Linked DNA regions of Homo sapiens: region 1 is linked to region 2. The links come from fine-mapping of genetic effects on gene expression. A gene starts in region 2. The other region holds a variant in brackets. All regions are shown on one strand. Distances are from middle to middle. Region 1 overlaps HEYL (hes related family bHLH transcription factor with YRPW motif like). Region 2 holds the start of NT5C1A (5'-nucleotidase, cytosolic IA).

Region 1 (4,387 bases), 41 kb before region 2:
AGGCTAGAGTGCAGTGGTGCGATCTCGACTCACTGAAAGCTCCGCCTTCTGGGTTCATGCCATTCTCCTGCCTCAGCCTCCCGAGTAGCTGGGACTACAGGCGCCCACCACCACACCCGGCTGATTTCTTTTTTTGTATTTTTAGTAGAGATGGGGTTTCACCGTGTTAGCCAGGATGGTCTCGATCTCCTGACCTTGTGATCCGCCTGTTTCGGCCTCCTAAAGTGCTGGGACTACAGGCGTGAGCCACCGCGCCCGGCCCGCTGTTTTTTTCTAACATTTGCTGAATTCTTACTAAGCATTTCATCAAGTTATCTAATTTAATCCTCATAAAACCCTCTAATTATTCCCATTTTAGAGATGAGGAAACTGAGGAGGGGAGAGGTTAAATCATTTGTCTAAGGTCATACGGCTAGTAACCAGTAGAGCCCGATTCAAATCTAAAGCCTATACCGTGAACCACAGTTCTGTCTTCCCATTAGTTCACAGTCAGAAAATGGTGGTAACACTAACCCCCATCTTGCAGGTTCTTGTGAGAATCAAATGAAACAACACAAGTGAAAGCATTTTAAAACTGTCAAATGATATCCACATATTAGTCACTACTTTTCTTTTCACTGGATAACCATAAATGTAATTTGAATCTCCCCCATTGGTTCATTAGAGATGGAAGTCTCCACTCTTAGCAATGCATTTTTTTTGGCAGAAGTTCCCAAATGGACCACCTGCACCAGGATAATTGGGTGGCTTGTTAAACTTGCAAACTCCTAAACTTCAATCTAGACCTACTGCCTCAGAATCTCTGGGGGATGACTCCTGATTCTGCCTGCCCCAAGGTGACAATGGTATACACTGAGGCTTCAGAAGCACCAGAATGGGCCACTTAAAATGCTACTGTCCTCTTCTGTAGCAGTAAGTTAGGTCTCTGGAACTTAGGTCTTTGTGGCCAAGGCCTGTGGAGCTTTCAAGGTTTCCCAATTTTGAAATCACCAAATACACAGAGAAACTTTGAGTAGACAGAATTTCTATTTGTCTGGAAGTGTCTTTAAAGCCACTGTTCCCTTACTTTATTGTAACTGATGGGCTTAAAATAACAAAATGAGTTAATTTGTGTCCTGCTACAATCCTGAGACCTGTGGTGAGCATGATATGTCACCCCAGTTCTGCCAAGGACCCCACAGTAGCCCAGAAGGCTAGACCAGTGGGTAGGATACCAGGCTCCTCCCTGGGTTAAGGGGGGTCAGATTGGGATCCCAGTGAGAATTAGCTCATTCAGGTGAATTCTTAATGAGGTCCTGGGTTGGACAAGAGTGGGACCCATAGGAACAGTCTGTTACAGAAGAAAGCGCCTCCCAGGTCTAAGACTGGAGGGAGCTGAACTGAGGAAAAGGTTGCGACAAATGGAGACACTGAAAGTGGAGAGGGAGATGCTGAAAGGAGAGAGAGAAGCTTTGCAAATGTTCCCTCCATTGACTGAGCTCCTCAGAGTGGGCAGCGTGTGGACTTTGCTCACCAGCATATCCCCAGGGCCCAGCCTCAAAATATTTGTTGTATGAATGACGCCTGAAAGAGAAGAGCATGGGTACCTGTCCCACCAGTGGCATGGAGCATTTTCAAGTGATCCACCGTCATCTGCAAGACCTCGGCTTTCTCCAGCTTGGAAGAGCCCTGCGGGTACAGAAGACAGAAGGGTGGAGCCTGCAGCTGACCATGTAGCTGTGCGGTGTCATCAGCACTCAC[T/C]GTCTCGATTTTCTCACCTTCCTCCCACTCCACTGCTGCCTGCAAATGGGCTTCTGCTTTGGCCAAGTTCTCCAAATCTAGAACATTCTTTTCAGTTCTCCTCTCAGACCATCTGTCCACTGTACAGCTGCCGATCATCTTTCCTGAAACCACTCCTCCCTTGACTTGCACGACACCACTGTTTCTGGGCTCTCCTTTCACCATGCCTCTTGATCTGCCGTCTCTTAACACAGTACTGTCCCTTCTGTGTCACTTCGCATTCTGCTGCTCCCTGCAGAGAGGCTTGTCACCTCCATGGCTTTAGCCACCATCCTCAGAATGCCTCTTAAACCAGCTCTTCAGGGAATCCAACTTCAGACTCAATGTGCCCAAGATCTAGCTCATCATCTTATCCCCAGACCACTTGTTCTTCCTCTTTTCTCTCTTGGGAAATGCTTCCTAAGCTTTCCAGGTGAAGCCTGAAGATCAGAGGCTCCATGGGAGTCCCTTGAGGGCAGATACTAGGTCTAGTTCATGGCTGGTCCTGTGATGGTTTTAGTGAACATCTGTGGGATGACTGACTTGTTCTCACCAGCATAAAGGAAGGCAGAGGACCCGTGACCTATGCCTTGGTGCATAGGGTGAGAATTTCTGAGGCTGAGTCCACTGTCTGATTCCCCGCTGTAGTTCCCCCACCTAACATGCTCAATGGTAGAGTGCTCACTCCCTGAGCAGCCTTTTCCACTTTCAAGTCACTCTAGAAATGTCTGTAGTGCAGAGGGATGAGGGCTTGAGAATCACACAGTCCTGTGCCCTGCTATTTACTAGCTGCGTGATCTGGTGTAAGTTACTTCACCTCTCTGTGCTTCAGTTTCTTTACCTGTGCCATGGGCATAATAATCCCTAACCTTTGGGATCATTTTGAGGAGTCAATTCAATGGGATGATAGACATAAAGACACCTGAGACACCTAAGTATAAATTTCCATTCCTTTTACCCTGGCCAGTGACAGATATTGGTAAATGATCACAGCATCTCAGGCAGCTGCTACCAATCAACAAGAGATGCCATGAGAAACGAACCTTATCTGCCACCCACACAGTATTTCCTCTAGCACAATCAGCAATGTCACATACCTGTTTCTCAAAGGCAGTGGGGACCAAGCGTCGCAATTCAGAAAGGCTACTGTTGATGCGGTCTCGACGCCGTTTCTCTATGATCTAAACAATCATGACAAGAAGTTACTCACAGGTGTGTCATCACAGTTTCCAAAGTGCCTTGATGGTCATCAACTCATATTTACCCACACAGTATTTTTGTGAGGGAGATCAATCTAGTCTTACTTTATGGTGGAGAAAACCAAGGCCCAGAGAAGGACAGTGATTTGCTTAAGGTCACACAGCAAGAAAGCGCAGAGCTGGGAGTACAACTCAGATCTCTTGTCTCGGTCTATAGGGGTGATATTCAAGATGTTTAACCACTGGTACAGCAGGGCACAGCCAATCACAATGAGGACACCAGCCACGGTGCTGGAGCAGGCCCTGGAGGCCCGTGCTGGGCCAGGAGGGTGACCCCGTCATCTGTGAGGTCATGAGATGGTTTGGGGAGTCCCACGTGTTGCTCTCTCTAGCTGCAGGGCCCTTCCACCCACACACTCTCATTCTTCCCTCCAATACTGGTAGCAGAACACCGGGAGCAGGACAGATATGACCCCATTTTACAGATAAGGAAAATGAGGGCTGGAAGGAAGTGGTTTGCCTAAGGGCTTACAGTCAGTGAGTGTCAGGCTGCTCTCTGCCAGACCCCAGGTGTCTGGACTCCCAGTGCAGAAACACAGCTGCATCCTGGGAGGAAAGTGGGGCTGAACATGATGGACAGATGACAGCGGCAAGTGGGGATCCTTCTTCTGTCCCCTCCCCCACCCCGGCACACTGAGGGGGATGAAAGTTCTGGACTCAGAGAGGAGACAGAAGATAGGAACAACAATCATAATGGCCTATTGTGTGTCTGCTATTGTTTAGAGCATTACATTAATGCACTTAATCTGTAAAGCAGCCCTTTGAGGTGGGCCCTCTCATTATTCCAGTTACACAAAGGAGCAAATCAGGCTCAGAGAGGTTAACAGGCTTGCCTGGAATCACCCTGATAGCTAGTGACAGAGCCGGGATTTGAACCCAAGCAGTTAGCTTCATGGTGAAATTTCTGCCTAGGGTTCTCCCCGCCGCCAGACTGCAGGGGATTCATGGCAACCCTTTGTTGGTCAACTCAGAGGCTGAGACGGACACTCACCCCTCTGTGTTTCTTCCTGGCTTGCATCTGCGAAGAGCTGGGGGTGGACAGCGGCCTGGCCATCTGGCTGGAAAGGAAAAGAAAAGCTGATTTTTCAGGGCTGGGGGACAGTCTCCCCGGCCTGGGCCGACCTCGGGCCAGGAGGAGCCACAGGCTGGGCCTAGAAGGAGCAGCTTGCTCTCCCCTTCTTCCTGGGGGCTCATTTCAACCCGGGTCAAGTCCTCTCATGCACTCTGGGCCCACTTTGGGCTCTTGGTCCGGACCTGCTCGGCCTCGCCCTTCGCCCCTCGCTCCTCGCTCCTCGCCCCTCGCGGCGGCCGTCGGGGAACCGCGTACCGCGGCGCGGTGGCTCCGGCTCCTGCAACCCGATCCCCGGGGG
Region 2 (4,387 bases):
TCCAACAGGCCTTCAGGCGTTAAATATTTTACTCAGGCCCCTGGGAATGAGAATTAGCCCAGGCCAGGCCATGATGGGGCCCATGAGGCCTAGAGCCCCCAAAATAGCCTGTGGGAAGAGGGGCTTCTGCAGGAAGGAATAGGAGCTGGGAAGCCTCCAGGCTTCTTGCCTCCCAGAGAACCATGAGAGTCAGGGGCTGATCCAGGGGTCATGACTGACAACTGGGCCTGAGCTCTCCGGTTCCTTGGTGCCTGGGGAGGAAATGGATTTTGAGCACTGATGCTTTCACTGCCCCAGTCCCCAGTCTCCATCCCTTCTTCTGCATCACTCAGGCCACAGCATTGACATTCATCCAGCTTCCTCTTCAGAGAGGCACCAGCCTTCTCACTGGTGGGTTTGCTGCCGGACTCACCCTTTCCAATCCATCCCAGAGTGATCTTTCTAAAATAAAAATGGGACCCAGTTAATCCCCTGATGAAAAATCCTGTAATAGCTCCATAATGGTATTCATATGTTTGTTTAAATGTAGGTTGACCTTTTATTTAAATGAATTCAAATAAACTTTGAATTCAATATGTAAGCCAGATATTACCATATATCTCATACCATATGGTACCAGATATAACATATATAATTGGTGTTTATTTATTTTACAGATTCAAATGCATTACATTTATTTATTTATTTATTATAAAGTCAACCAATGAAAACAACACAGTTGTTTGCATGACAACAAATTTGAAACTAGCGGCTAGAATGCCAGTGCAGACTTAAGCTTCAGCATCCGGCCAAGTTGTTGCTGTGTTTGTATTTGTACAGTATTGAGAAAGTCCTGATTCAGACCAATAAGTGGTTGGAAATGCTAAAAGGTTTTTTGTTTTGGTTTGTTTTAAACTAAAGGCCTTACAATCTCAAGACGCTCTTTGATGGAACAGATCACAGGGGAAGCCTTATTCTGAGCTTTGCTTTAAAAAAATCTGCAGCACAAGCTAGTGGCCTTCAAGCTGCTAAAATGTCCACCTAATACATTAGAGTGAGTTGGGTTTTATTACACATTTTTAATTGTTTAAAACATAGTCCGAAGAAGAAAGAAAATAAATTGGATTCACATGTGTGCAGACTCCCTGAAACATGGGGCTTGGGGAAGCTAGTTTGGAAATCCCTGACCCCCTTGAGTAAGGTCCAGACTCCTTAACATGATCCCCAAGGCCCTCTGTGGGCTCTTCCACATCCCTCCAGCTCTTCTTCCAACAATCCTGCATTCTTCATTCAGTACTTATTCAGGAACACAGTCCTGAGCTTCAGAGACATCTGCATGACTTTTGCCTGTCCTGTTTCCCTCTCCCTGGGAAACTCCACCTACTCAGGCTTTAAGATCAGGATACGTGCCACTTCTACAAAGCTTTCCCCAGTGTGATGTCACTACTCTACTCCCCCCCCAACTCCCCTAGGCTCTCATCTCTGGAGCCTCCATCATTGTGCAGTGAGCTCCTGAGGCAGGGACTCAGGTTATTTAATTCTTCAATCCCCACTCTTGAGCAGAGCTTGGAGGTGCTAATTGAATGATTGCTGATAGGGTGGACCTGTTGGGGAAGGGTTCTTGGAGGGAAGCAGCAAATTGCTTTAAGATCAAGCTGGAGCTCTTTGGAGGACCGCTGTGGGCCAACCTCTATTCTCGGTTTTCTCCTCAAGCTCTGAGATCTGGGAAGTTGGAGACAGCAAGGTCCAGGGGCAGACCAGGGCATCATCAACTTGTTTGATGGCAGAGAGGAGAGAGCTCCTCTGTGAGGTCCCAGACGGTTGACACCACCACAGGGTCGTGGGGATGTTAATGCCCACTGCAAGGGGAGCAGAACCCGAGCTGGGGGGCAGAGTCCAGCGCTGGGAGCCTGCGGCCAGGGGCGCCGATCGCCCCCCAGCGCAGAGTGTGGATCCCAGTGCCTGGAGAGAGCAGCTCCCTTTCCTTAGGACGCGGGGAGCGCACTGCCCCCAGCCCAGGGCCCAGGACCCAGAGCCAGACCCCAAACGCAGAGTCTCAGGTCCGGAGCCCGATGCCCAGATGGCGGAGACCGGAGCGCACAGCCAGGAACCGGGTTCCCAAAGTCTGGTTACCCGCGCCTGGGGCGCTTCTGGAAGCGCTGCGGACCAGCTTCGCCAACAAGTGCAATCCGCGCTCCCCGGCGGCCCGAGTGGGGAGGGGCTGGGGCTGCGGGCCTCTAGCTGGGCCCTGATGACAGCATGGGGGAGGGGGAGCCTGGCGTGGAACCCGAGTCCCGGTAAAAAAATACACCAGAGCAGAGCTCCCAAAATAAACCCGAGCCCGCGCCAGCTGCAGGGCGCATTCTGGGGCTGAGGAGCTGCGTCCCCTCCCAGAGGGGCGCCACGGGTCCCTTCCCAAGAGACTTATGACCCCTCCTCCGGGGTAACCCTTCCCCCGTCCCCCGCATACCCGTGCATTGCTTTTACCGATTTGGGTTTCTTCTTGGGCGCGAGGTTGTCGTAGAAAATCTTGGCTTCCTCCCAGACCGGGGCCGCAGCGGTCTCCGCTCCTGGCCCGGGCTCGCGGGGCTCCTGGGGCTCCCGGGGCTGCCCAGGTTCCATGCTCCGGCTCTGACCCGGCCCGGCCAGAGCAGGCGGCGGCGTAGACGCGGAGGTGGCTGGGGCTGGGCTGCAGGAGGGAGGCGAGTCCCGGCGAGGGAAGGGGGCGGGCAGCGGCGAGGAGGCTGTGCGTGTGAGCTGGGCTCCCCGCCCGCCGGGCGGGGGGAGGTCACACTGGCCCTCTCGGTCGCCCGTGTGTCGCTGCCGCTGCTGCTGCTACTGCTGTACGGTATGAGGGATAGCTGGGCTCTCCTTCCCCGACCGACCCACGCCAGCAGCCGGTTGGGTGGTGAGGGGGGCTCTCTGGCTCTCTGGGTTTGTGGGCTGCAGCGGATTGGGGATTGCGAAAATGATGTTCTTCGCAGGCGCTGCAGGGCGCGGAGACAGGAGAGGCCTGACAACTTTTTTTTTCCCCCAGGATAGTGATCCCCAAAGGACAAAATGAAAAGCTAGCCGCTCCCCTCCCAAAAGCTAGCTGCCCATCTTTCCTTTAGGAGCTAGGACCCTGGGATCCTGACGATGTCCCCTTCCCTCCGAGGCCAGTCCATCCGGCAGACGGGCAGGAGGTGATGCATGGATGGCTCCTCTCACTAGCAGAAGCCTGCTCCCAGCGGGAGCTCAGTGAAGGGCCCAACCCGGCAGCTCCTCCACACCACCTAGGAGGGGCCCTTGAAGTCCATGTTGAGACCAGGCTCGGGTGGTCTCAGGTCGAGACCTTGGCCTGGGGTGGGGACCCAGGCCAGAGAGACTCCCAGGGACTCTGAACCCGAATTCTTGCTGGCCCTTTGGTGGTCAGCAGAGGGCGCGCATTCCTAGGCCCCCACCTGCCCAGCTTGGGGTGATTTGTTATAGGCCATGAAGGGGCTGGATAGAGGGAGGGCAGAAGAGGGGCCTCGGAACTACCATCCTGGAATTCCAGGGTGTTGTCCCTCTTGATGCAGAGCTCTGTACTAGTCTCAGGGTGCAGACACAAATGTCACCCATCCCAAGGTACAGGCCAGGAAGCAGACAGCCTCTCTCAGAGGTGTGCATGGGTGGGTGGGAGAAGCAGGAGAAAACACTGGCTTAGCTAGGAGGGCCTCTGACTGGGGAGGTGAGGGGGCTACAGAATGGAGTGATCCCCTCAGCCTCCACCAGGTCCTGGGAGGAATAAACCAACCCTTGTGTGGGAGGAAGGGAAAAATCATAATAAAATGTTAGGATTGGGGGAAGTGTGTTTAGACTTACTTCTAGAAGATTGTTTCCAGAGATGGCCCAAAAACCTCTTCCATCCTGCCTGTCCTTTGGAAATGTGACTTTGACATTCCTCCCATTCAGAGGTGGAGTCCAGTCTGAGCTGGCCCTGTGACTTGCTTTGACCAATTGAATGGAGTAGAAGTGGTGCTCTGTGGTTTCCAAGCTTACGTCTTAAGAGGCCTTGCAGATTCCATTTTTGCCCTCTTGGGAGCCAGCTACTATGTAAATAAGTCTGGACTATCCTGCTGGAAAGGCCACGTAGTGAGACAGATAGGACCTGGAGGATAAGAAGCTAGCGACAGCCCAGGTGACTATAGGCACAATTGACAGACATGTGAATGAGGCCATCCTGGCTGTCCCAGCCCCAGCTCAGCTCCCAGTGGAGTGCAGCTATGTGGGTGACGCCAGCCAACACAACCTGAAGCAGTAAAACCTTCCAGCTGAGCCCAGCCAACTCACAGAATCATCAAAAATAATAAATTGTTGTTTCAGGCACCAAGTTTTGGGGTAGCTTGTTACACTGCAATAAATAATTGAAACTCTAGGAATGAGG

What was found. PIP is the estimated chance that this variant, and not a neighbour inherited with it, causes the effect. A credible set is the group of variants that fine-mapping cannot tell apart.
Region 1: its variant is the best candidate, but not a certain one, in a credible set for the expression of NT5C1A in cerebral cortex (GTEx, PIP 0.86).

What each region holds. Positions count from the first base shown.
Region 1 is chr1:39,628,641-39,633,027 of GRCh38, forward strand. HEYL (hes related family bHLH transcription factor with YRPW motif like) reads right to left here. Exons shown (of 5, transcript NM_014571.4): 2 at 4,009-4,075; 3 at 2,856-2,939; 4 at 1,587-1,668. Among named protein-coding and RNA genes, the nearest start is that of HEYL, 8.8 kb to the right of the region's middle. The variant T/C (reference allele first, on the strand shown) is at 1,741.
Region 2 is chr1:39,669,438-39,673,824 of GRCh38, forward strand. NT5C1A (5'-nucleotidase, cytosolic IA) reads right to left here and starts at 2,670. Exons shown (of 6, transcript NM_032526.3): 1 at 2,467-2,670. The coding sequence starts at 2,601. RefSeq lists a silencer at 2,453-2,862.